Homo sapiens: one gene and its partners. The protein of the gene in region 4 purifies or fractionates together with the protein of the main gene of each other region. This does not show direct contact. Each region holds a gene or a part of one and is shown on either strand. Other genes may lie near its edges.

Region 1 (3,500 bases), on a different chromosome or scaffold from region 4:
GAAAAAAAATATTTGCCCAGCCCTTTAGAGATTGGTTTAGTGGAGTATGATTTACCCTTAATATGAAATATTTCCCTTGGTTAAATTTCATTGTATCTGTTGTTGTGCAGTAGGAATACCAGGTATAATTAACATTTTGTGAAAGTAGGCCTATAAAATATATCTGTATATTGGTCACCAAAGGTTGTAGGGAATTAAATGTTCATTTGAGTGAACATTTTATTTATTGAGACAGGCTCTTGTTCTCTCACACAGGCTGGAGTGCAGTGGCACAATCATAGCTCACTGCAGCCTTGATGCCCTGTCCTCAAGTGATCCTCCCACCTTAGCCTCCCTAGTAGCTGGGACTACAGGTGCGTGCCACCACTCCTGGCTAATTTTTTAATTTTAGTAGAGATGGGATCTTGCTATGTTGCCCAGGCTGGCCAACATAGCAGGCCTCAAGTGATCCTCCCACCTTAGCCTCCCAAAGTGCTGGGATTACACATGTAAGCCACTTCGCCTGGCCCTGAGTGTTTTAAATTTAGTTAATTCTTTTCCTACATGGCATATTAGAACATCAGAACATAGAACAGACTGGAATTGGGCCACATGGCTTTGTTATAAGTTTTAGGTGGCTTTCTTTAAAATATAAAGATAAAAAAGTATATGTATCAGGTCTCCTGAAATCCATTCTCATGCCCTAAGCTCTTTGGACATTTTCAGTAGTAGAGAGGAGGAGCCTGCCATGCTTGCCTTTAACTGTCTTTCCTTTCCAGATAAGAACACATGGAGTATATTACACACCCAGGGTGCCCTTGTGCAAGGGGGTTACGGCCATAGCAGTGTTTACGACCATAGGACCAGGGCCCTATACGTTCATGGTGGCTACAAGGCTTTCAGTGCCAATAAGTACCGGCTTGCAGATGATCTCTACCGATATGATGTGGATACCCAGATGTGGTGGGTACTTTTTCTTGAGCTTTCACTTTAAGGTGTAAATTCTGTAGAGGCAATTGTGGAGAAAATATTGTGCTATCTTTTTGTTTTCATGCCTGGCAGATAATTCTGTTCGGCATTATATATAGAGAAATTGGGAAATAAACAGAGGGTAATAAAGTAGCTAGTATTTATTTTGTTACGTTATTCTGTAATTCTGTAGCAGGTTGGTTAGAAAATACTTAGAGTTTTTTAACAAATGTAAAGCAAATTTGAGTTACGAAATAATGTAATTATAAAGCGATGGTTTCTCCTCTTTTTCCTCACATGTTTGATACCTTGCTATGGGTACTGTTTTATATTCTGTCATAAAAATAATCATTTTTAGTAGCTGTGCAATACTCCATTTTGTGGGTATGCTGAGACTATGCAGGTGAAAGTTTTGGTTTCTTTCTAGTTTTTATGTCATTAAGAAACCATTATGCATTAAGCTTCTGTCAATATTTCACATGATTTCTGCCCAGAAACTGGAATTATATAGCTACGGGGTATGAAGAGTTTAAGGTTCTTAATATATTTTGCCAAAACTCTTACAGGTCTTTAAAATTATCTGTATTTATTGTTGAAAAACTTACTTTTATGTAGGGAAAACTCTGGAAGGATTTGTACATTTGGGTCTGAGGTTAATAAAGTGGTTGTGCTTGCATTAGCAGATACATAAATATTCTTTAAAAACTAACCTTGTATTTATTATTTCTAAATAAACTCAAAAGGACCATTCTTAAGGACAGCCGATTTTTCCGTTACTTGCACACAGCTGTGATAGTGAGTGGAACCATGCTGGTGTTTGGAGGAAACACACACAATGACACATCTATGAGCCATGGCGCCAAATGCTTCTCTTCAGATTTCATGGCCTATGACATTGGTAAGTTTCCCAAAACCATTTTCTCTTCAGGCATCTTTTTGCCTATACTATAAGCAGCATTTAAAAGGAGACTGAAAATATTGCCAGTTCAAAATGATCAGGCCATTTGAAAGAGGTCCAAATGGTATTTTTTATATTCATTTGACTAATGTTACACATCTGGTAAAAATTATTTCTACATTAAATTCTTTTTGAAATCACTCCTGTTAATTGCTTGAATGCTAATTTTTAAGGCTGAGTTGAGGTGTCTAGTCTCTCCTTTGTCATGTTATGCCTACCTGGTAGTGTTACATAGTTGCAACCACCAGCATTGTGTTAAAATTGGTTCACGTATTAGCTTTATCTCATTCCCTAGAAAACTGGTTTCTCACATGGTCTTGGTGTGGCAATATACCAGACCAGAAGAGGGCAGTATTTGTTCATGCAAAGCAAATGCATACCGGATGATCTCTTTCATAAAAATTGTCAGATGTTCATTTTAAACAAATTATTATTTTTTTGATTGTGGTAAAATACACATAAAATTTACCATCCTAACTATATTTAAATGTCTAGTTTAGTGATACTAAACACATTCATAATGTTATAAATCCATCACCGCCATCCATCTTCAGAACTGTCTTCATCTTGTAAGACTGAAGCTGTATACCCATTAAACAATAATGTCCCATTTCTTCCTCCCCACAATGCCTGGCAACCACTATTCTACAGTCTGTCTCTGTGATTTTGACTATTCCAAGTCAGACATTCGTTTTTAACAGACATTTGTGTGCCAGCCACTCAGTTTGTACATTGAGGAGATCAGATGAATAACTTAAAGCCCTTAGCCTCAAAGTAGAAGAGGTAGAGAAATGAGCAGACAATAGAATTGCACTTCAGGGTGTTTCTGGCTGAAAAGAATGTATGAGAGCACCTCTGAGTACCCTTTAAGTCATGGAGGGTAGAGTGATAAACAGGGAACACTTTCTTAAGGAGGGGCCATCCTCTCTGGGTCCTTGGGGACACTAGGTGTCAGGTAGGTGAAGTTAGGCAGCACTCTCCAGGCAGAGGAAACCCAGTTTGCAGAGACACAGAGGTGGAAAAGACCGGCACATATTTAAGGGCTCAAAGAGTGAGACACTGAGTGTGAGGTTGGCATGGTATAGCAGCACCAGTTGGTATTAGATCCAGAAGAGAAGTTGCTAGTATGGGTCACAACAAGGGAAAATTAATCAATCTATGGGATCTAGGAAAGGACTTTGTAAAAATTAGGTGACATTTAAATTTCTTGAAATTTCATTTTCCACCTTTATTTTTCCATTTTAGCTACTAAATTTGAGCAAATCAATATAGAAAAGAGTGGAAAATAATTATGAAACCCATGTTTTGCTGACATAAGCTTTGTAGAATGTAAAATTTGCTTGCTTTAAAAAACATTCTTGGCTGGGCGTGGTGGTTCATGCCTGTAATCCCAGCACTTTGGGAGGCCCAGGTGGGCAGATCACGAGGTCAGGAGATTGAGACTATCCTGGCTAACACGGTGAAACCCCATCTCTACTAAAAATAAAAAAAATTAGCCAGGCATGGTGGCAGGCGCCTATAGGCCCAGCTACTTGGGAGGATGAGGCAGGAGAATGGCGTGAACCTGGGAGGAGGAGCTTGCAGTGAGCTGAGA
Region 2 (3,500 bases), on a different chromosome or scaffold from region 4:
GACAGGGTTTCACCGTGTTAGCCAGGATGGTCTCGATCTCCTGACCTCATGATCCGCCTGCCTCGGCCTTCCAAAGTGCTGGGATTACAGGCGTGAGCCACCGCGCCCGGCCCTAATGAGGCTCTTTGGGGCAAGACAAGGTGGTTGAGTATCTGATATGTAAGTCCTGCTTCCTCGTAAGGGTCTGTGCATATAGGAAGTTCTATGGCCAGAAATGGCTTGAAAATTGCCAAACGTGGTTCTCCATAAGAGCCTTTCCAGGAATAGAGTGTTTTGTTTTAAGACTAGGAAAGAGATCTTTTTTCTGTGAATTGGCCAGTGCAGTTATCAGGAAGTAAATTCCATGCCAAATCTTGGAAATGAACCTGCATGAGAGCAAGGGGACACTGGGTCTTGTTCACTGCTTGGCATAGGGTAGGTGCTTTAAATTTTCCGGCCCAGTGGATTTGTTGGATGAACACAGCATAGATCTGGGTCCCTGAAGGGGATCTAAGCTTTTAAGGAACAGATTCCACCTCCCAATCCTGTTTCCTACTCCACGGGTTGCCTAGAAGGAGGGCGGTGGGGTGGAATGGGACTGACTCTGGGCTACTGTGAATACAGGAGGGTGTGGAGGATTGCAAAGTCCCCGGCCGTCATAAAAGGACACAGCCTCATACTTAGATGCTCCACCCCAGGCCCTCGTAGTGGTTTGGACATCTTTGTCCGGTTACCTGGGTGGCACTGGGGGAGCTATCTCACCCTGGGGATGGGCCCAGCCCCAGAGGGTGTTTCCCCGGCCACCTGCGCCCTGGGCTGTGCCCAGTTGGCCCAGCAAGTTGCAGTAGGCGGGGTGGCCCGGGTCCACCTCCCCAAGCTGGAGCCTGTCATGCAGGGAGCCAGAAAGTTGGGGTCGAGAGGACTGGGGAACAGAGCTTTCAGTCCTTCCTGAGGGAGGCCCACTTCATCACTCCCTGTGCCTCTGTCCCAGACCCCCTACTTCTGGGGTTCAGCCACCCTCCCAGGCCCCAATACGTGCCTAATGCCATGGATATTCTTGATAGCATAGCTGATCTCCCTTCGGAGTTCCTTCTCATCAAACTCCATCTGTGTAGAAAAGCAGAGAAAAGCCTGGTCAGGGCCTGTCCTACTACCTGGGAGGTCAAGACAGGGCCCACCCCACACCTAGGGCTGGGCATCAGGGCCTGTGGGGTGGGGGCCAGCAAAAACACACGCAGAGAGAGTCCTGAGTGAGGGTGGGGGGAGTCCTGAGCCATCCTGTCCCCAGGGCTGCCTGACCTACCTTGACCAGCTCGAAAGGGAAGCGCTCGTGGAAGATTCGGTTAATGCGGGCTCCCCCTGACAGTTCGTAGGTGTCGATCTGATCTCCTGAGCCCTCAATGCGCTTCTCAAAGTCTACGGCGAACTGCTGGACCATCCTGGTGGGAGAGTGGTGTGGCCTGAGGGGGCAGGAGCAGCCCAGCAAAGGGAACCCTGGGAGAGCCCCACGCTGAGAGGCTGGGGGCGGGGATTCAGTGATAGGAGCTGGGGGAGCCTCACTGCAGCAGGGCCTTGGTCTTGCGAGCTGGGTCATCAGGGCGGAAGTTCTTGTATTCCTCCACCTCCTTCTCAATGGACAGTAGCTGGCTCTGCAGCTTGTTCCGCAGCCCCGGCAGTGTGTCCCGGATGTGGTTCGTCAGTTGCTGGGGGTAAGGGTGAGGAAAGGGTTGAGGACAGATGGTCACAGGGCCAGGAAGGGACTTGGATGCCAGGGGACTGTGTGAACGTGGTGAGGTGGAGAGCTATGGAGGGCAGCCCTGCCACTGCTGCCCGGGCCACTAGCAAGAAAACTGGTTCATAGAAGGAGCTTGCAGAGATGTATTAGTTGAATTAATGAGTGCATAATTTTCAATAAAGCCAGAAATCTGGATTTGTATTTGGAATTTCCTGATTTTTGGCCAATTTAATCTTTTTATTTTTATTTATTATTATTATTTTTTTGAGACGGAGTTTCACTCGTCACCCAGGCTGGAGTGCAATGGCGTGATCTCAGCTCACTGCAACCTGCGATCTCTGCCTCCCAGTTTCAAGCAATTCTCCTGCCTCAGCCTCCCAAGTAACTGGGACTACAGGCGTGCACCACCATGCCCAGCTAATTTTTTGTATTTTTAGTACAGGTTTTCGCCTTGTTGGCCAGGCTGGTGTCGAACTTTTGGCCTCAAGTGATCCACCCGCCTCAGCCTCCCAAAGTGGTGGGATTACAGGCATGAACCACCATACCATCCCAATTTAATATTTTTAGACGTGCGTCTGAGGCAGGGGTGGCCAGAGGGCTGCCCCTTGGACCCTCTGGGTTTAAAGCCTCCTTTAAGGTCATTCTCAAGTTCTAGCACTCATGCTCACTAGGTGCCCCCACACAGTATCTCCCTGAACCTTTACAACAATCCTATGAAACAGGTCTGATCACCATTGTCTCCATTTTACAGATGCAGAAATAGAGGCTCAGAGGCCAGGCACGATTATGGCTCATGCCTGTTATCCCAGCACTTTGGGAGGCCAAGGCGGGCAGATCACCTGATGTCAGGAGTACGAGACCAGCCTGGCTAACATGGTGAAACCCCGTCTCTACTAAAAATACAAAAATTAGCCAGGCGTGGTGGTGTGTGCCTGTAATCCCAGCTACCTGGGAGGCTGAGGTAGGAGAATCCCTTGAATCCAGGAGGCAGAGGTTGCAGTGAGCTGAGATCGCACCATTGCACTCCAGCCTGGGTGACAAGAGCAAAACTCCATCTAAGAGAGAAAGAAAGAAAGAGAGAAAGAGAGAAAGAGAGAAAGAAAGAGAGAAAGAGAGAAAGAAAGAGAGAAAGAAAGAAAGAGAAAGAAAGGAAGGAAGGAAGGAAGGAAGGGAAAGAAAGAAAGAAAGAGAAAGAAAGAAAGAAGAAAGGAAAGAAAGAAAGAAAAGAAAAGAAAGAAAGAAAGAAAGAAAGAAAGAAAGAAAGAAAGAAAGAAAGAAAACAAATAAAGAAAAAAGAAATAGAGGCTCAGAGAGCCAGAGAGAGTGTCTCAGAGGGGGAGTGACAAAACTGGGATTGGAAACCAGGTCTTGCCTACACAGACAGACAGTCAGACAGACACACACACACACACACACACACACGCGCGCGCGCGCGCACTTCAGTTCTGGATGCCCCATTCCAGATGGAGAAAAGTCCTGGGGAAGCCCCTGGGATTCCCTGTCAAGGTCTTCAGCCGAGTATACTTGAATCCTGGCCCCCAAACCCAAGCTCTTCCCCATGACACCCTCCACATAGGTCTTGGCCTTCTCTGTGTTGGGGACTTCCAGGGCTTCCCTGGCAGGTCCCAGACAGGGAAAGGTCAGTGAAGCTTTGCTGCTACCTAGCTGTGGGGCTGTGGGCAAGTTGCTTTGCTTTTCTGAGGCTCAGTTTGTCTATCTGCACTACGGAGAGGCTAACCTCTGCTGTTCACTCTCAGAACACACTTAATTTATCCTGTTTTCATGC
Region 3 (3,500 bases), on a different chromosome or scaffold from region 4:
CCGGCCACTCACAACTCTTAATCTCCACTCTAACCACTGCATGAGTAAATCCTCCAGAACATTCCTTAGGGACTTAATTCTCTATTATACTTTTGTGTATAGAATATAAAATCTAATGTAGATGATACTATATATACATGTTTGTTCTGTGTTTGCAGGGACCAAACTTTACAGACCACATACTCAGAAATGCATAAATGTAAATAGCTTCACATTTGATCTTTTTAAAGAGAGATTCCATTCAGTTAAATAACACAGTCAAGTTCTTGTAATTTCTTTTTCTCCCAACCTTTTATTTTGAAAAATTTTAAACCTACAAAAAAGTTGAAAGAAACGTATAATAAAACACTTGTAGGCTGGGCTCGGTGGCTCACGCTTGTAATCCCAGCACTTTGGAAGGCTGAGGCAGAGGGATCGCTTGAGCCCAGGAGTTCGAGACCAGCCTGGGCAACATAGCGAGACCCTGTCTGTACCAAAAATAAAAAAATTAGCCAGGTGTGGTGCCTGCCTGTAGTCCCAGCTACGGGAAGCTGAGGCAGAAGGATTGCTTTAGCCCAGGAGGTTGATGCTGCAGTGAGCTGAGATCTCGCCACTGTAATCCAGCCTGGATGACAGAATGAGACCCTGTCTCAAAACAAAAAACAAAAAAAACCAACCAAACGCTAGTGTATCCTTTAGTTTCACCATTTGTTAACATTTGCCACGTTTGATTTCTCTTTTTCTCCTTCTATACGTATATGTGAAATGCACAAATTTTTTTGCAGAGTCATTTGAAAGTAGTCACAGATACCCTAACACTTAAATACTTCAGCTTGTATCACTTTAGAAAAAAGGCATTCTTGGCTGGGCATGGTGGCACACACCTGTATTCCTAGCACTTTGAGAGGCCAAGGTGGGTGGATAGCTTGAGCCTAGGAGACCAGCCCAGGCAACATAGTGAGACCCCGTCTCTACAAATACAAAAAAAGTAGGCATGCTGTGTGCGCCTGTGGGCCCAGCTACTTAGGAGGCTGAGGTGGGAGGGTGGCTTGAGTCCAGGAGGTCGAAACTGCAGTGAGCCATGATCGTGCTACAGCACTCCAGCCTGGGCAACAGAGTGAGACCCTGTCTCAAAAAAAAAAGAAAAAAGAAAAAAAGAAAAATAAAAGAAAAAGGGATTCTCTTATAGAACATCAATTCCATATTACACCCAAGAAAGTTAACATTAATTCAGTAATACTATATCCAAATTTTTCTAGTTGTCCCTCAGAATTCCTTCATAGCTGTTCTTTTTTTGCAATCCAGGATCCGATCAGTGTTCACATACTACATTTTGTTCTCATGTCTTTTTAGTCTCCTTTAATTTAGAACCGTCCCCCTTGCCTTTTGTTGTTCTTGGTGTTTTGGATGACGCTGACATTTTAAGAGTCCTGACCAGCTGTCCTGTATAATGTTTCACAATCTGGATTTATTGTTTCCCTATGATTAGATTCAGATTAAACATTTTTTGGCAAGAATACTATGTAGGTGATATTATTTCCCATTACATCATATTAGAAGGTACAGAAAGTAACTTTATCCCATCACGGATGTTATGAAGTTGGATCACTTGGCTTAGGTGTTTTCATCACGTCCTGCTCCATTATAGAGGTACATTTTCCCCTTTTTAATTAATATGCTATCTGGTGGGTGATCCTTTGAGACCATCTGAATATCCTATTCCCCAACAACCATTCTGCATTTTGTTTTAGTTTCTGAATTTTGCTAGATAATGGTTTTTCATGTATACCTGGCACTCACGTATTGAATATTCTCTCCCTAAGTGATTCCAACAAAAATAAAACAAATTTAATACTGTGTTAGCCAAAAAGAGACTCCATTAAGTCGATTTTTAAAATTTTTTATTATTTTTATTTTTTATTGCTATAAAACAGTTGTACATATTTAGGACCCATCAGTTTTGAAAATTACATAAAAGAAGGGAAGAAAATGTCTTCCCTAAAATAATATCAGCACATATACTGAACATTTTAGATTTCATTGTGTAGGCTGCAAATATGGAAATTCAGTGAGTTAGTTCACCCACATTTAAATTAAAATAGCACAATTATTTTTAACTTAATTGGTTATTTCTGTTATGACTCATCAAATTCTCAGGCCTCTGTTTATCCTGTAACAGTTTAAAGCATGACTTCTGAGCCTCTTACTTTCTACTCTGCCCAGAATCCTGGCCGTTTGTCATGGGGTCATGTATAAACAGCTCTCAGCCTGGATGCTCCATGGACTCCTCTTGGACCAGCATGAAGAATTCTTTATCAAACAGGGGCCATCTTCTGGTAATGTCAGTGCCCAGCCAGAAGAGGACGAGGAGGATCTGGGCATTGGGGGACTGACAGGAAAACAACTGAGAGAACTGCAGGACTTGGTGAGAGCCCAAAAAGTAGCCTAGCACTCTCCTGCCAGGAGTCAGAAAAGCATGCACACAAATGATCTTCTGGTGATCCCTTCTTAGCTCATAGCTGAGCACCTTCCATCAATCCTTTCGATGTAAACATTCGGCTTTATCTTAACTAGTGTGAGACTATAAAATAGAAAATATGTTTGTGATATTCTTTTTGTTTCCTCTTTCCCAATATATGCATTTGAGAGATTATAAGTCTTACTTATGTAGCTACTCTAATGGAGCAGCTAGCTACATTTTAGATTTTAAATACAGTTTGGAGTTTTGTTTTTTTTTTTAAAGACAGATTCTCACCCATCGCCCAGGCTGGAGTGCGATGGCGCAATCTTGGCTCACTGCAGCCACTGCCTCCCAGGTTCAAGCAATTCTCCTGCCTTAGCCTCCCAAGTACCTGGAACCAGGCATGTGCCACCATGCCTAGCTAATTTTCATATTTTTTATTTTCATATTTTTAGTAGAGACAGGGTTTTGTCATGTTGGCCAGGCTGGTCTCGAACGCCTGACCTCAGGTGATCCACCCGCCTCGGCCTGTAAGTGTTGGGATTACAGGCATGAGCCACCGTGCCTGGCCAGTTTGGTGTTTTGATTAGACTCCTCAAAGTTCTACATTGTCCATATTCATCCATTCATCCATCCATCCATTCATTCATTTATCCTGTGGCAATATTTCATTGAATGCCTGTTATGTGCTAGGCATTGTTCTAGGTGCTACAAATAAAAAGTAGTAGTGTCTGTCCCTAAGGAGCTCATAGTTTAGGGGAAGAGATATAGAAAAGTAAACAGTTACATTACAGTGTGCTAAGGGCTCTGAAAAGACTAAATATGGGTATTCTTGGAACATGGTCATGGGATAGGGTCTTGGAGTGACTAGGGAAGGCTTTTCAGTGGAAGGTATGTCTAAATTGCAAAGAGTTTGGGAGGAGCCATCAAGAGACATCCAGGCAGAAGGAATGATATGTGTAAAGGTACAGGGGCCATTAAGGACATGGTTCATTTGGGGAAACAGTAGTAATTCAATTGAAATGATCAAATAAAGGCTGAAGTAAAATGTTACAAGAGA
Region 4 (3,500 bases):
TCAGGTGATCTTCCCGCCTCGGCCTCCCAAAGTGCTGGGATTACAGGCATGAGCCACTGCGCCCGGCTGAAATTAATTTTTAATTGACACAATAACTGTACGTATTTATGGGATACATAGTGATGTTTCAATTCATATAAGATATAGTGATTTGATCAGAATATTTAGCATCTCAGACATTTATCATTTCTTTGTGTTGAAAATATTCAAAATCCTCCTTCTAGCTATTTGAAACTATAATATATATTATTGTTGACTATAGTCATCCTACAGGGATATAGAACACTAGAACTTATTCCTCCCACCAAGCTGTAACTTTGTTTCCAAAAAGTACATTTTGGTGGGGAAAGAGAAGGAATCACTCTATAGAGTATTGGGTGTCCCCAAGAGAATGGGTAAGATAAGATAGGATGGTGTAGTAGAGTGCTTGAGGCAGCCAGGAATGCCTAACGAAGAGATGCCAAAAGGAAAGAAAATTGTCCAACAGCTGGCAGGAGGACAGGAAAGCTTTCCCTAATTTTGCTGAAGGTGATCAGAGTCATAGACTCTTAATAGTTGAGGAGAATAATAATTTAGTTATTGCTTAGAATTGACAGATTTCTAGGAAAAATCTGATAGCACTGTGTTTACACAAACCATAAATAATTAGCCTTGAAAATGGGGTTGGGGAAATAAGTAACATTCAACAAAAACACTCATCCCTTTGTTAGTTTTTATTTAGTTCTTTGGAATAACCAGTTTTTGTTTTAAAATATTTTAGTTATTCTATTTCTCCTTGCTTTTTCAGATTTGCTCATTAAGAAAAGTGATTGTTTCTTCCTGTGTGTGGCTTTGAGGGTTCAATTTTCAGAGTTTCAGAATTTACCACGCTGTTAAACGTGGTTAGTCATTCATACACCACACTGGCAGTTAAGAATGATGTTGGCTGGGCACGGTGGCTCACACCTGTAATCCCGGCACTTTAGGAGGCCAAGATAGGAGGATCACTTGAGGCCAGGTATTCAAGACAAGTTAGGTCAACAAACCAAGACCTGATCTCTACAACAAATCTAAAAATTAGCCAGGCATGGTGGCAGGCTCCTGTAATCATAGCTGCTCTGGAGGTTGAGGCAGGAGGATCACTTGAGCCCAGGAGTCTGAGGCTGCAGTGAGCTATGATGGCACCACTCCACTACAGCCCATGTGACAGAGCAAGACCTTGTCTCTTAAAAAACAACAACAAAAAAGAATGATGTTAATTCACAAAAGAGATAATCTTATATTTGAACAGTGCCCCATATCACTTTAAACCATTTTAAGTAGTTTTCCTTAGTAACTGAACAAGTCTAAAGGTGACTTGATTTGTTAAGTAGTTTTTCATCCCATTTGGGATTTTTTGTGTGCGTTTTTGTAACTGTTAACAGTAGCAGCTTTGAAAATAGACACTACTATATGTGTGACTTTGTGGCTTCTTAAATGGTTAAAACTTACCAAAATGCTAATATTGAGAGCAGAAATTATTTTACTTTATCTTATTGATTATTTGTTTTTTATGCTCTTTCATTGGGTAAGTTTAGTGATTATTCTAGATTTCAGGAAACTTTTGGTCAGAGCAAGCAGAAGAGCTAGCTGGGCTTAAGCAGCATTTTATCTTTGTTTTTTCAGTGATTGCCTTCATGTTGTGGAGCCCATGCCTGTGCGGGGGCCTGATGTAGAAGCATACTGTCTACGCTGTGAATGCAAATATGAAGAAAGAAGCTCTGTCACAATCAAGGTAAAATATATATCCCTCTATCTACCTGTCTGTCTGTCTGTCTACGTCTTTTCTGCTTCTGGATGGTTTCTAGACAAGACAGAAAAATTTGGACCCCTACCCCAAAAGGAATAATGGGCCTGTTCTGCCTGCCTCACTGACATGGTTTGTGGATTAGTTAGGGTATGTTAGATAGATATGTGAAATGGCACAAAAATGCCCTATGTGTAATTAGCATATTCCAGAAAGATATCCCAGCTTCTGTGTAGGCCATGTGTGCCAGAGGCTGAGAGAGCAGCATTTATAAGCCCTCCTCTCCTTGCCTTTCCAGCCCTTTGAAAAAATTAAATATATAGTAATTATTCTAGAACTATTACTTCTGGATTTTAAGATTTCCCCTCTTCATTTCCTGTAGGACAGTGGTCCCCAGCCCCCAGGCCACAGCCCAGTCTGTGGTCTGTTAGGAACTGGGCCACTCAGCAGGAGGTGAGCAGTGGGCAAGTGAGCAAAGCTTCATCTTATTTACAGCTGCTCCCCATCATTCGCATTACCACCTGAGCTCCACCTCCTGTCAGATGAGCAGCAGCATTAGATTCTCATAGGAGCATGAACTCTATTGTGGACTGCACATGTGAGGGATCTAGGCTGCATGCTCCTTATGAGAATGAGAATCTAATGCCTGATGATCTGTCACTGACTCCCATCACCCCCATATGGGACCGTCTAGTTGCAGGAAAACAAGCTCAGGGCTCCCACTGATTCTATGTTATGGTGAACTGTATAATTATTTCATTATATATTATAATGTAATAATAATAGAAATAAAGTGCACAATAAATGTAATGTGCTAGAATCATACCCAAACCATCCCCTACCACCCCTGGTCCATGAAAAAATTGTCTTCCATGAAACTGGTCCCGTCCCTGGTGCCAAAAAGGTTGTGGAGTATTGCTGTAGTAAATGGGATGTAGATCACTCTCATCACCATTTGTATTTCTAATGAGTTCAGTTACTTTATTATAGTGGCTAATGGTTTTTCTTCCAATTTTTTTTTTTTTTTGAGATGGAGTCTTGCTCTATTGCCCAGGCTGGAGTGCAGTGGTGTAATCTTGGCTCACTGCAACCTCCGCCTCCTGGGTCCAAGCGATTCTCCTGCCTCAGCCTCCTGAGTAGCTGGGATTACAGGCATGCACCACCACGCCCAGCTAATTTTTGTATTTTTAGTAGAGACAGGATTTCACCATGTTGGTCAGGCTGGTCTCGAACTCCTGACCTCGTGGTCCACCCATCTTGGCCTCCCAAAGTGCTGGGATTGCAGGTGTGAGCCACCGCGCCTGGCCTAATTTTTTTTTACATGGCACTTCCCATTCCTTTCCCCCCAAAAGGCCCTGTGGGGAATGTGGGGTGGTTAGTTATAATAGTCACAAACATTTCTGCTGTGATTGACCCTGTGGAAGAGCTCTTGCTCCAGCAGGGTGCTGAACTTTAGATAAATCCTCACTGTACTATTATTTAACAGATTTGTAAAAAATATACAACTTATGTACCCTAAAAGTCACTCACTATAAGTATACAATTCTATAAATTTTAGTAGATTTAAAACATTTTAAAATCCAGTTTCAGGCCAGGCATGGTGGCTCACATCTATAATCCCAGCACTTTGGAAGTCCGAGGCGGGTGGATCACTTGAGGTCAGGAGTTCGAGACCAGCCTGTCCAACGTGGTGAAACCCCATCTCTACTAAAAATATAAAAATTAGCCAGGTGTG
Region 5 (3,500 bases), on a different chromosome or scaffold from region 4:
AGACAGTAAAACATTTTCATCCTGCCTTTTATATGTATTTTAGAATGTTTTAATGATAGAATTTTCAGATGATATAATAGGATATTTTCTACTGAGAATAACACAAAATAATTTCAATTTGTTTTGTCTGTTTTTTTTTTTTTTTTTTTTTTTGAGACGGCGTCACGCTCTGTCACACAGGCTGGAGTGCAGTGGCGCGATCCTGGCTCACTGCAAGCTCCGCCTCCCGAGTTCACGCCATTCTCCTGCCTCAGCCTCTCGAGTAGCTAATCTCGTGTAGCGCTACCGCGCCCGGCTGATTTTTTTTGTATTTTTATTAGAGATGGGGTTTCACCGTGTTAGCCAGGATGGTCTCGATCTCCTGACCTTGTGATCCTCCTGCCTTGGCCTCCCAAGGTGCTGGGATTACAGGCGTGAGCCACCGCGCCCGGCCTGCCTTGTCAGGTTTTTTGCAGGGAGGTTTTTTTATCAAAGAAATGAGCCTTTCACTTGTCTGGTTCTTTTCCTGGAATAGGAACTTTGTGGATGTAGTGAAAGATCTCAAGGTGAAGTTGAGATCCTCAACTTAGAGCCTTTAGGTGGGCCCTAAATCCAGTGAATGGTGTCCTTTTAAGGAAGAGGAAGGGACACAGTCACATACAAAGGAAAAAGTCCATGTGAAAATGGAGACGAGATCAGTTACTGCTGCCACATGCTATGGAATGCCAGAAGCCACCAGAAGTAGGAAGAGGCAAGGAGGGATTCTTCCCTTTGGATGTAGCATAGCTCTGCTGTGACCTTGATTTTAGATTTTGGGCCACCAGAACTATGAGAGGAAATTTCTGTTGTTTTAAGCCACCAAATTTATGGTAATTTATTAAGGCAGCCTTAGGAAATGAATGCAAGTTCCCTTTTATCCTAACTTTTCAGACCCATTTTGATTTCTTTATTCAAGTTTCCACTTACAGAGTCTACTGTACATATGTTTACACAATCAGATCCTGTCTTTGGCTCATCTCTGATTGTTTCATGAATCTAGAAAGCAGTTATTCTGAGGCTTTAGTGTGTTATAAGTAGAGGCTCTTGAAAAGCTTCTTAAAAGGTCTGGGCTCAAGTATTTAAGAATATTTAAAAAGTTTTGTGTTCTGCTTTTGATATTTTGTTTTGCTTAGACTTAGACTTGATGTAACTAAATTTGTTTATATAACCTATGTTATCTTTTCATTCAGAAAAGTCTTTGAAAATCTTTAAAATGGCCGGGCGCGGTGGCTCACGCCTGTAATCCCAGCACTTCGGGAGGCCGAGGCAGGTGGATCATGAGGTCAGGCGTTCGAGACCAGCCTGGCCAGCATAGTGAAACTCCGTCTCTACTAAAAATACAAAAAGTTAGCCGGGCGTGGTGGCAGTGGGCGCCTGTAATCCCAGCTATTTAGGAGGCTGAGGCAGGAGAATCGCTTGAACCTGGAAGGCGGAGGTTGCAGTGAGCCAAGATTGTGCTACTGCACTCCAGCCCGAGAGACAGTGCGAGAGTCCGTCTCAAAAAAAAAAAAAGAAAATCTTTAAAATATTTCATATTACCACTGGCGTGTCTTTAGGAAACGCCATGTGAGGCTATTAATTTTTCTTAACAAAAATGTGTACATTGAGACTTCATTTAATCAGCTGTTTAACAATCCTCATCTGTCAGAACTTTGCTAAGAAATAATAAAAATATAAGCAGTCAAAGTACATATTTTGAAGGCCAAGCACTTTATATAGAAGAGAATCTCTATGGCTTTTACTCAGTCTGTATGCTTTTATAATTCCAGTAAGTTTGGTAATTTGATATTTTTTATAAACGAATCCTTCAAATCATTTTCAAAAGTGTAACTACAACAATAAAATTTACTGTGATACGGGGCCCGGCGTGGTGGCTGGCGCCTGTGATCCCAGCACTTTGGGAGGCTGAGGCGGGCAGATCATGAGGTGAGGAGATCGAGACCATCCTGGCTAACACAGTGAAACCCCGTCTCTACTAAAAATACAAAAAATTAGCCAGTCGTAGTGGCGGGCGCCTGTAGTCCTAGCTACTTGGGAGGCTGAGGCAGGAGAATGGTGTGAGCCCGGGAGGCGGAGCTTGCAGTGAGCCGAGATTGCGCCACTGCACTCCAGCCTGGGTGACAGAGTGAGACTCTGTCTCAAAAAAAAAAAAAAAAAAAAAATTTACCGTGATACTCTTAGCTGAAGATAAATAACTACTGTTAACTTTTTGAAAAACAACTTTCTGATAAATGATTTACATACTATAGTATTTACTTTTTTTGAGTGTAATGATTTTTGGTAAATTTACTGAATTATGCAGCCATCAGCATAAATCCAGTTTTAGAACATTTCTATTACCTCAATAAAATCTGTAGTGCCCTTGTTGTCATCCCTAGCTTCTGGCATTCACTAATCTATTTTCTGTCTTTAGAGTTGCCTTTTCTGGACATTTCATGAAATGCAGTTATACACAGGTGGTCGTTAGTGTCTGGTTTCTTTCAGTATGTTTTTGAGGTTCATTCATGAAGTTTGTATCCACACTTCATTTCCTTTTATTGATGAATAGCATTCCATTGTTTAGATATCCTATATTTTGTTTATCCATTTACCAGTTGATGGATATTTGGGTTGAATGAATAATACTGCCATGAATATTTGTGTATAAGTCTTTGTGTGGACGTAAACTGTTATTTGTCCTAGGTAGACAAACTGGGAAGGGAATTGGTGGGCCACTTGATAAATTTATGTTTAACTTTTTAAGAAACTGCTAAATTCTTTTCCAGCCTACATACCCACCAGCAGTGTATGAGGCTTCCCGTTTCTTCAAATTCTCACCAATATTTGTTACTGCCTTTTTATTTTTAGCCATCCTAGTTGTTATGATGAAGTGTTACTTCATTGAAACACTGTTAACTTTTTGAAGTACAGATTAAATATCCTTTATCAGAAATGCTTGGGATCAGAAATGTTTTCAATTTTGTTTTTTTTTTTTTTTTTGGACTTTGGAATATTTGCATATACATAATGAAATATCTTGGGGATGAGATTGAAGTCTAAACACAAAATTTACTAATGTTTCACATCCACCTTATACACAATCCAAAGGTAATTTTATGCACTATTCTTTTTTTTTTTTTTTTTTTTTGAGACGGAGTTTAGCTATTGTTGCTCAGGCTGGAGTGCAGTGGTGCGATCTCAGCTCACTGTAACTTCCGCTTCCCAGGTTCAAGTGATTCTCCTGTCTCAGCCTCCCAAGTAGCTGGGATTACAGGCATGCGCCACCATGCTCAGCTAATTTTGTATTTTTAGTAGAGATGGGGTTTTGCCATGTTGGCCAGGCTGGTTTCAAACTCTGACCTCAGGTGATCCGCTGACCTTGGCCTCCCAAAGTGCTGGGATTACAGGCATGAGCCACTGCACCTGGTCTTATGCACTGTTGTTAATTTTGTGCATGAAACAAAATTTTGACTGTGTTTTGACTGTGACCCATCACGTGAGAT
Region 6 (3,500 bases), on a different chromosome or scaffold from region 4:
AACAGAAAAGCTTTTGTATGTCTCTTTTTTTGTTTTTTTGTTTGTTTGTTTTTTTCTGTACATAAATATATGCCTTTCCCAATTTTTGTTTAGGAAACAAAAATTTCTAAACTATGCATTTTTGTAATAGTCTTTATTTCTTTTAGCATGTTGTAAACTTTCCCCATGTCAACAGATATTTTTCAAAACATTTTTATATCGCTTTGATTCATTTATATGGGTATATAATTGATGATAGTTGAAATAAGATTGGCAAAATATTATATTTGAAGCTCAAAATGGAATTCATTTTACTGTTTCCTCAGCTTTTGAGTGTGTTTGAAATATTCCAAAAGAAAAATCCAGACTTGAATGGTGTATTCCTGAGAGAGAGTTGCAATGGCCATCTCCACAAAACACCTGATGACTGAGGAATAGATGAGACGAGGGCAGATTTTTAGTCATAAAAAATGAGTTCAGATTGAGTTGAAGTTTTTGCCTACTGTAGATCATTAGATGGACTAATTTTTCATTTATGCATATGTCAAACTATAATTTTGCTGAGACATAGTATGGTTAGAAGGACGTAGTAGAACTTAAAGCTAGATAAATAATGAAGCACCATATTAGAAAGCTCTGAATTTCCATGTGATAAGTTTGTAGGCTAAAGGGGCAAATGCTTTAGGAAAATTTCGTAGCAATATGTTTGGTGTTTAAAGTAGGGAAGGTCTGAGTGAGAGATTGCAGTTAAAAGCTGTTTATTACTAAAGTGAAGGCCAGTTATCAGGAGGATCTGAACAGGGAAGGAAAATGGGCTGAAATCACAAGTTTGAGTTGACAGCTGAATGTTTCTAGGGAGTCAAATATCCCTAGGATTCAAATTGAGTTAACTGGGAGTGGCAAGTTGATTGATAGTAGTGAGGACAGAGAGACAGTCAAAGAAAGGTTTTAGCTCTGCTGAATATTTAGTCCCAAAGGAACATCCAGGTGGTGATGTCCAGTAGTTGGGAATGTAGAACTAAAGTGAAGAAGAAGGGAAACCAAAGAAAAAGTTGATAGTTTTTGAGACTACTGGAGTGGCTGTAATTTACCAGGGAGAGAGCAAAAAAGGGTGAGAGAACTAGTGGCAAACTTTGGTAACAGTTGCATATAAGGTGCAGGTGGTATAGGTGGAGAAAAAGAAGCTAGAGGAGAGGTGATCAGAACCAATTGTGTAAAGTGTTGTGGAAACTAAGAAAAAGAAAAATTTTAAAGAAAAGGAAGAAAAAGTTTAAGGATAATTGATAGAGCAAAGTCAGGAAGGAGACAGGAGGATTGGATCCAAAGTAAGTATACAGATAGAGGGATATTTTCTCCTCTGAAGTAAGATAATACTAAAAATGATGGTAGGGAGAAAAGGTAGCTTCATATTGATCTTTTTGGCAAATAAGGTGATAGCATGCACAGAGTAAAAGAGAGTAGGGAGAGTAGACTTTAGGGAAACAGGAAAGATTTACAGCTGATGTTTGAGAGACTTAGTTGTTTACAGACTGATCAAAAGAATGCTAAGCAGCCCTGAACACCTTGCCAAAGATGGATGGCTAACTTGATGCTAGATCCAAGCGGCAAGCTCAAGAGCAGGAAAGGGCAATAGTGGGGCTAGTAAAGCTGGGGATCAAAAAACATGAGGACGAGAAAATAAAATATTGGTAAGAACATCGTTGTAATCTTGAGACACAGGGTTGGATAGAAGAGCAAGTGGTATCAGGAGACCAACAGGACCATGAGAAGAAAAGAGGAATGATTGGGCCGGGAAGTTGCCTAAAAGTAGTGAGCAGACAGGATTGTAAGAGGTGAAAAATAGGAGCTTGTGATCAGAGACTAATTGAAAATGAAAGATCTTTGATGTGGACAAGTTCCAAGTGATGACCGAGTCTAAAGCCTGATCTTCCCAGACAGCTGAAGTAAGAGAGGACACAGGTTGAGGAAACCTGAAGTCAAGTTATGAGAAAGGGGTGGTGTTACTTAGATTTATTTAGGATGGCCCTAAGATCTTTGGAAAACAAAGAGCCTTCTCATTCTTTCTCTAAGTTCTACATAAAGGGATAGCTTGGGCAAGTGCTGTTTTAGAGAGTGTGGGAAGAGTGACAGGAAACAAGTAGCACCTTTAAGTGCTAACACACCTAGAATATCTATAGAAGCATACACTAGAAGCTACTAAGGTCAGGGAAGGGACAGTATGGCTGGGAGACAGAGGTGGAAAGAATATTTTTTACTGTACATCTTTTTATACCTTTATACCTTTCAAATTTTAAACTACGTGTAACAATTAAAAAATAAGAAAAATAAAAACAACGTAGATATTACAGATGCAGATAGTAACCAGCTTGTTTAACTTTAAAGCAGTTTATCCCTTACTTGTTCTTTCTGGTTTTGAAAAAGATGAATGTGATGGGTACGGTTGATAAAAAGAATCTGTAAAAGTACGTTATTCATAGTATAGTATTTTGCTACATTATTTTCAAGCACTGCTCTCTTAATTTGAATCTTTCATCATATGTCTTGTAATCCCTGGAGTATTTTAGAATTTCCTTCAGTGGAATCACAGCTTTCCCTCACTCTAAGTCTGATTTAGCCATTAATAGAATCCTTTAAATAGATCTCTCTCTGTTCACTTCTTCAGTTCAAACTGAGAGATGTCATCTAACCTAAGAAGAGATAGAAAGCAATTAGGAGTTAGCATCCTGGCACTCTTTTTGGGATCCTGTGTCATCATCTGGTTTGAAAAGGTAAACATCTCCAGGATATCAGCACATTCAGGGTTTGAGAATTAGCACACTGATTCATCCAAAAGCCAAATAAAATATTGTTGAGATTTTCCTATTATTCTTCTATTAGTTAAATAACCAGAGGTAATGGCAATTATATATATTTAATTAAATACATTTAACAAATGTAGTAATTTCTATTGCAATAATTTACATGTTTTCCCTTTTAAAATCTTAAACCAGGTGTGAAAATCACATCAACACTGCAAGTGTTGAAGCTTATCAAGCAGGCTGGTGACCGAGTCCTGGTGTACTATGAAAGGCCTGTTGGCCAGAGTAATCAAGGTGCAGTGCTGCAAGATAACTTTGGCCAGTTGGAAGAAAACTTTTTGTCAAGCTCATGCCAATCGGGTTATGAAGAGGAAGCTGCCGGGTTGACAGTAGATACTGAAAGTAGAGAGCTGGATTCTGAATTTGAAGACTTGGCAAGTGATGTCAGAGCACAAAATGAGTTCAAAGATGAGGCACAATCATTAAGTCATAGTCCCAAACGTGTTCCAACAACACTTTCTATTAAACCCCTTGGAGCTATATCACCAGTTTTAAACCGTAAATTAGCTGTAGGAAGTCACCCACTACCACCGAAAATTCAGTCCAAAGATGGAAATAAACCTCCACCCCTAAAAACTTCTGAGATAACAGACCCAGCACAAGTGTCAAAACCAACCCAAGGATCTGCTTTCAAACCACCTGTGCCACCACGACCACAAGCGA
Region 7 (3,500 bases), on a different chromosome or scaffold from region 4:
CATCTGGTTTCCAGGTCCTTCCAGTTAATGGGGAGGGAACTTGACTAACAGAAGCTTTGGCAGGGAAAAGGAAGAGATCTGATCCCCTCTGAGTTTTAGGGAACTCCAGTCTTCTCCTTCCCTCAAGTGTTCATCACATTGTGAGGCCAGAGAAAGGAGTCAGAGTTGGTTGGAATTAGTACTTAACAGTGGTGTGATCTGGGCAAGTAATAAACCCCATTCCCCAGCCTCTTAGGTGTCTTAAGGCACATCCTCCAAGCCTAGACTGAGCCCTTCCACAAGGAATCCCTGGTCCCCCACCAAGTGGCTTTCTTCCCTGGTTTGCTTTTAAATTCTGGCTTTGCCACTGTCTAATTCCGTGACATCAGACAAAACTGGTAACTTTTTGAAGCCTCACCTGTAAAATGGAATTAATAATAGGCCCTACTTCTTGGGGTTATGAGGATTAAATGAAATAATAGAGAAAGCACGTTGCACAGTTCCTGGCACATAGTAAATGTTAGCTGGATGGTTCGGATTCTGAGGGATAATCATCATTAAGGGAGAGAGGTCGGAGTCGGGATAGGAGAACTAGGCTTTGGTTCTGATCTTCCTTTGGCCGACCACATTAGGCACTCTCTCCTATCTGCCAGGCACAGTGTGAAGCACAGGGGATGGAGGGGCAAATAAGATGTTTTCCCAGGGGAGACATGTGAAAACATGTTGATTCACTGCAGCCCAGTGAGTGCTGTGTGGAGGTGTGTTCAGGAGGCCACTGGAGCATAGAGGAAGAGTGCTTGGCCCTGGGGTGAGGTGCCAGGGAAGGTTCCTGCAGGAGATGCCCTGTTAGCTGGATTTTAAAAAAATTAAGGTGAAATTCACATAATAGGAAATAAACCATTTTAAAGTGAACAGTGGCATTTAGTACATTCACAGTGCTGTGCAACAACCACCTCTGTCTAGTCCCCAAACATTTGCACCATCCCGAAACAAAACCCATACCCATTACACAATTGTCGCCATTTCCCCTTACCCCAGCCCCTGGCAACCACCAATTTGCATCCTGTCTCTATGGATGTACCTATTCTGGATATTTCATACAAATGGAATGATAGAATGCATGACCTTTTGAATCTGGCTTCCTTCGCTTAACATAATGTTTTCCAGGTTAATCCACACGGTAGCATGTAGCATGTATTAGTACTTCATTCCCTTTTATAGCTGAATATTATTCCCTTGTGTGGACAGACTTTACCTGGTTAAAGGATGAGTTAGGCCAACAGGAAGGGTCTTAGGATGGCACTCCTGGTGGAGGCTGAGCGTGAGCAAGAAGGCACACAGGGTATTTGGTAGTCCTGTACCTTGCAGTATGAAGTGGGGATTTGGCCTCAGTTTCTCTGTCTATAAAACAAAGTTAATCATCCCTTTCCTGCTTGTGCTATGGGCTTGGTAGAGTTGGAGGTATTAGGGGAGAAGAGAGGCTAGGGTATTATTGCCTCTTCTCAGGGTCTGGGCTGGGGATGGGACTTTTAAAACTTGCTCTTTCCTCCTCTTTCCTGGGCAGCTCACTCCTGTATGCATCAACCCTCATCCTTGTGGGGAGCCATCTCCCTGTTCACTTGACATCAGCTTCCCCTCTCTCTGAATTGACCTGAAATTTTCCCTTTTACCTTCCACAGGTGGGTAACCCTGTGCATGATGAGATTTTGGCAGCAGAGGTGAAGGAAAGGCCTGGGACTAAGTCCTACTCACATTCTACCCTACGGCGGCCCTCCCCTTCTTTATCCTGTCTCTTGGTGATGTGGCTTGGGCAGCCCTCTCTCACCTTCTCTGTTGTAGTCTGGATAGAACTGTGGTGGGCCAGGGAGAATGTTTGCATTCCTTGTCTCTACCCTGCTTGGTACAGAGTAGGAGGCAGAGGCCCTTTATGGTGGGGCCCTTTGGAAATGAGGTTTTGCTGTGCTTTGTCGGATGCCCCTGGCAAGATTGGTAATTATAGACATAACAGCTGGGAACTGGTTTGAGAGAAGCAGGCTTGGAATCAGCAGACCTGAGGATATCCTGGTAATCAGGGTGGGGCAGGGAGAGGGGAGAGTGGGATGAAGCTGGGGGCTGGGTAGGGTGGGAGGCTTGGGGCCTCCTTCCCCTGCCGCTCCACACACAGCTGGGCTTAGAGCCTAGAGGAGAGTGGGAGGTGATTGGAACCCAGGTCTGCTTTACTGTAAGTGAGGAAGGAGGAAGGAGAGGAGGAAAGGTGGGGGATCCAAGGGCCTCTGAAGAAAGAAGCAGAGAGGAGGAAGAGGCATGTTGGTTGCTCTCTCAGGCAGTACCTGGATGTGGTCTAATTTAGAACAGGGACAACCCTGCACCTAGAGGTGGTTCCATCTTATTTTGGGGTGTTTCTCCTTACAGTGAGGTTATGGGAGCAGGAAGTGGAGGGGATTCGCTGTGGACCCACTAAAGGAGAAAAGGTGGGAACTAACATTTTTTTAAGCATCTATTGTGTGCCAGAATCTGTAATATTCTGCATACATTATTTTGCTGAAAACTCTTAACCTTCTGAAGTAGGCACTATTATTGCCATTTTATAGATAAGGAAACTGAAGTTTGGAAAAGGGGAGCGACTCACCTGAGATTACATAGCTCGTAAAAGGCTGTGCCAGGTCTGACTTCAGTGCTCTTCCTTTTCCCAAAGTCTCTTCACCTTCCCCTACTGTCATTCCAGTTCGGTCTGATTGCTCATTATTGCCTTTAATCTTGCACTTGAGTAATTCCCCTGTTTTCTGAAAAGCAAACATGAGTCCAGTGTCAGCCTGAGGAGTAGAGAAGCCTACCCTTGAGGGTGGGAGTCAGAGAACGATCTCATCTCCAGGAGGAGCACCTTGGTGTCATAAGCCTGGGGCGGGGCCAGCATCTGGGCAGAAACCTCTCCTGGGGTGGGTCTCTTTCTCCTTGCTGGGCCATGATTTTGGATGGGGGTTGGGGTAAAGGAGTGACTGTAGGCTCCGGCCACCATGGCCCGTGGGGTCTTGTTTGTGAATGGGAGGAGCCTGGTCCTTATTGTCTGTAGGGTTTTCTCACAGCCCCTAACAATGTCCTTCAGACTCCTGTTTTCACCAGAGTGTTCTTGGCTCCCTCAGCCTGGTCAGAGAGAGAGGGTGTGTTTGTTTGTGGGTCTAGGGAGGGGGTTCTGGTTTTTTTTTTTTTGAAACCGTTTCGCTCGTTGACTAGGCTGGAGTGCAATGGCGCGATCTTGGCTCACTACAACCTCTGCCTCCCTGGTTCGAGTGATTCTCCTGCCTCAGCCTCCCGAATAGCTGGGATTACAGGCATGCACCACCATGCCTGGCTAATTTTGCATTTTTTGGAGAGGCGGGGTTTCACCATGTTGGTCAGGCTGGTCTGGAACTCCTGACCTCAGGTGATCTACCTGCCTCGGCCTCCCTAAGTGCTGGGATCACAGGCGTGAGCCACCACGCCCGGCCCAGGGGGTCTGGTTTTTTAGGGTAAGTAGGGTTTAG

Evidence for each region.
Region 1: the proteins of TMEM9B (region 4) and ATRN purify together in Homo sapiens (co-immunoprecipitation; 2 studies listed by BioGRID and IntAct, with this or other methods). This does not show direct contact.
Region 2: the proteins of TMEM9B (region 4) and DNM1 purify together in Homo sapiens (affinity purification with mass spectrometry; 2 studies listed by BioGRID and IntAct, with this or other methods). This does not show direct contact.
Region 3: the proteins of TMEM9B (region 4) and TUBGCP4 purify together in Homo sapiens (co-immunoprecipitation; 2 studies listed by BioGRID and IntAct, with this or other methods). This does not show direct contact.
Region 5: the proteins of TMEM9B (region 4) and ARFGEF1 purify together in Homo sapiens (co-immunoprecipitation; 2 studies listed by BioGRID and IntAct, with this or other methods). This does not show direct contact.
Region 6: the proteins of TMEM9B (region 4) and PDZD8 purify together in Homo sapiens (affinity purification with mass spectrometry; 2 studies listed by BioGRID and IntAct, with this or other methods). This does not show direct contact.
Region 7: the proteins of TMEM9B (region 4) and VANGL2 purify together in Homo sapiens (affinity purification with mass spectrometry; 2 studies listed by BioGRID and IntAct, with this or other methods). This does not show direct contact.

What each region holds. Positions count from the first base shown.
Region 1 is NC_000020.11:3,561,518-3,565,017, forward strand, and holds part of ATRN (attractin isoform 1 preproprotein), read left to right. Parts: intron 1-758; coding exon 759-942; intron 943-1,691; coding exon 1,692-1,846; intron 1,847-3,500. UniProt on the Homo sapiens protein: Involved in the initial immune cell clustering during inflammatory response and may regulate chemotactic activity of chemokines. May play a role in melanocortin signaling pathways that regulate energy homeostasis and hair color.
Region 2 is NC_000009.12:128,220,379-128,223,878, reverse strand, and holds part of DNM1 (dynamin-1), read right to left. Parts: intron 1,683-3,500; coding exon 1,540-1,682; intron 1,419-1,539; coding exon 1,283-1,418; intron 1,087-1,282; coding exon 1,019-1,086; intron 1-1,018. UniProt on the Homo sapiens protein: Catalyzes the hydrolysis of GTP and utilizes this energy to mediate vesicle scission and participates in many forms of endocytosis, such as clathrin-mediated endocytosis or synaptic vesicle endocytosis as well as rapid endocytosis (RE).
Region 3 is NC_000015.10:43,381,101-43,384,600, forward strand, and holds part of TUBGCP4 (gamma-tubulin complex component 4), read left to right. Parts: intron 1-2,202; coding exon 2,203-2,404; intron 2,405-3,500. UniProt on the Homo sapiens protein: Component of the gamma-tubulin ring complex (gTuRC) which mediates microtubule nucleation.
Region 4 is NC_000011.10:8,954,443-8,957,942, reverse strand, and holds part of TMEM9B (transmembrane protein 9B isoform a precursor), read left to right. Parts: intron 1-1,644; coding exon 1,645-1,753; intron 1,754-3,500. UniProt on the Homo sapiens protein: Enhances production of pro-inflammatory cytokines induced by TNF, IL1B, and TLR ligands. Has a role in TNF activation of both the NF-kappaB and MAPK pathways.
Region 5 is NC_000008.11:67,333,782-67,337,281, reverse strand, and holds part of ARFGEF1 (brefeldin A-inhibited guanine nucleotide-exchange protein 1), read left to right. Parts: intron 1-3,500. UniProt on the Homo sapiens protein: Promotes guanine-nucleotide exchange on ARF1 and ARF3. Promotes the activation of ARF1/ARF3 through replacement of GDP with GTP. Involved in vesicular trafficking.
Region 6 is NC_000010.11:117,284,941-117,288,440, reverse strand, and holds part of PDZD8 (PDZ domain-containing protein 8), read left to right. Parts: intron 1-2,641; coding exon of another isoform or gene 2,642-2,670; exon of another isoform or gene 2,671-2,747; intron 2,748-2,969; coding exon 2,970-3,500. UniProt on the Homo sapiens protein: Molecular tethering protein that connects endoplasmic reticulum and mitochondria membranes. PDZD8-dependent endoplasmic reticulum-mitochondria membrane tethering is essential for endoplasmic reticulum-mitochondria Ca(2+) transfer.
Region 7 is NC_000001.11:160,403,564-160,407,063, forward strand, and holds part of VANGL2 (vang-like protein 2), read left to right. Parts: intron 1-340; exon of another isoform or gene 341-829; intron 830-2,564; exon of another isoform or gene 2,565-2,762; intron 2,763-3,500. UniProt on the Homo sapiens protein: Involved in the control of early morphogenesis and patterning of both axial midline structures and the development of neural plate. Plays a role in the regulation of planar cell polarity, particularly in the orientation of stereociliary bundles in the cochlea.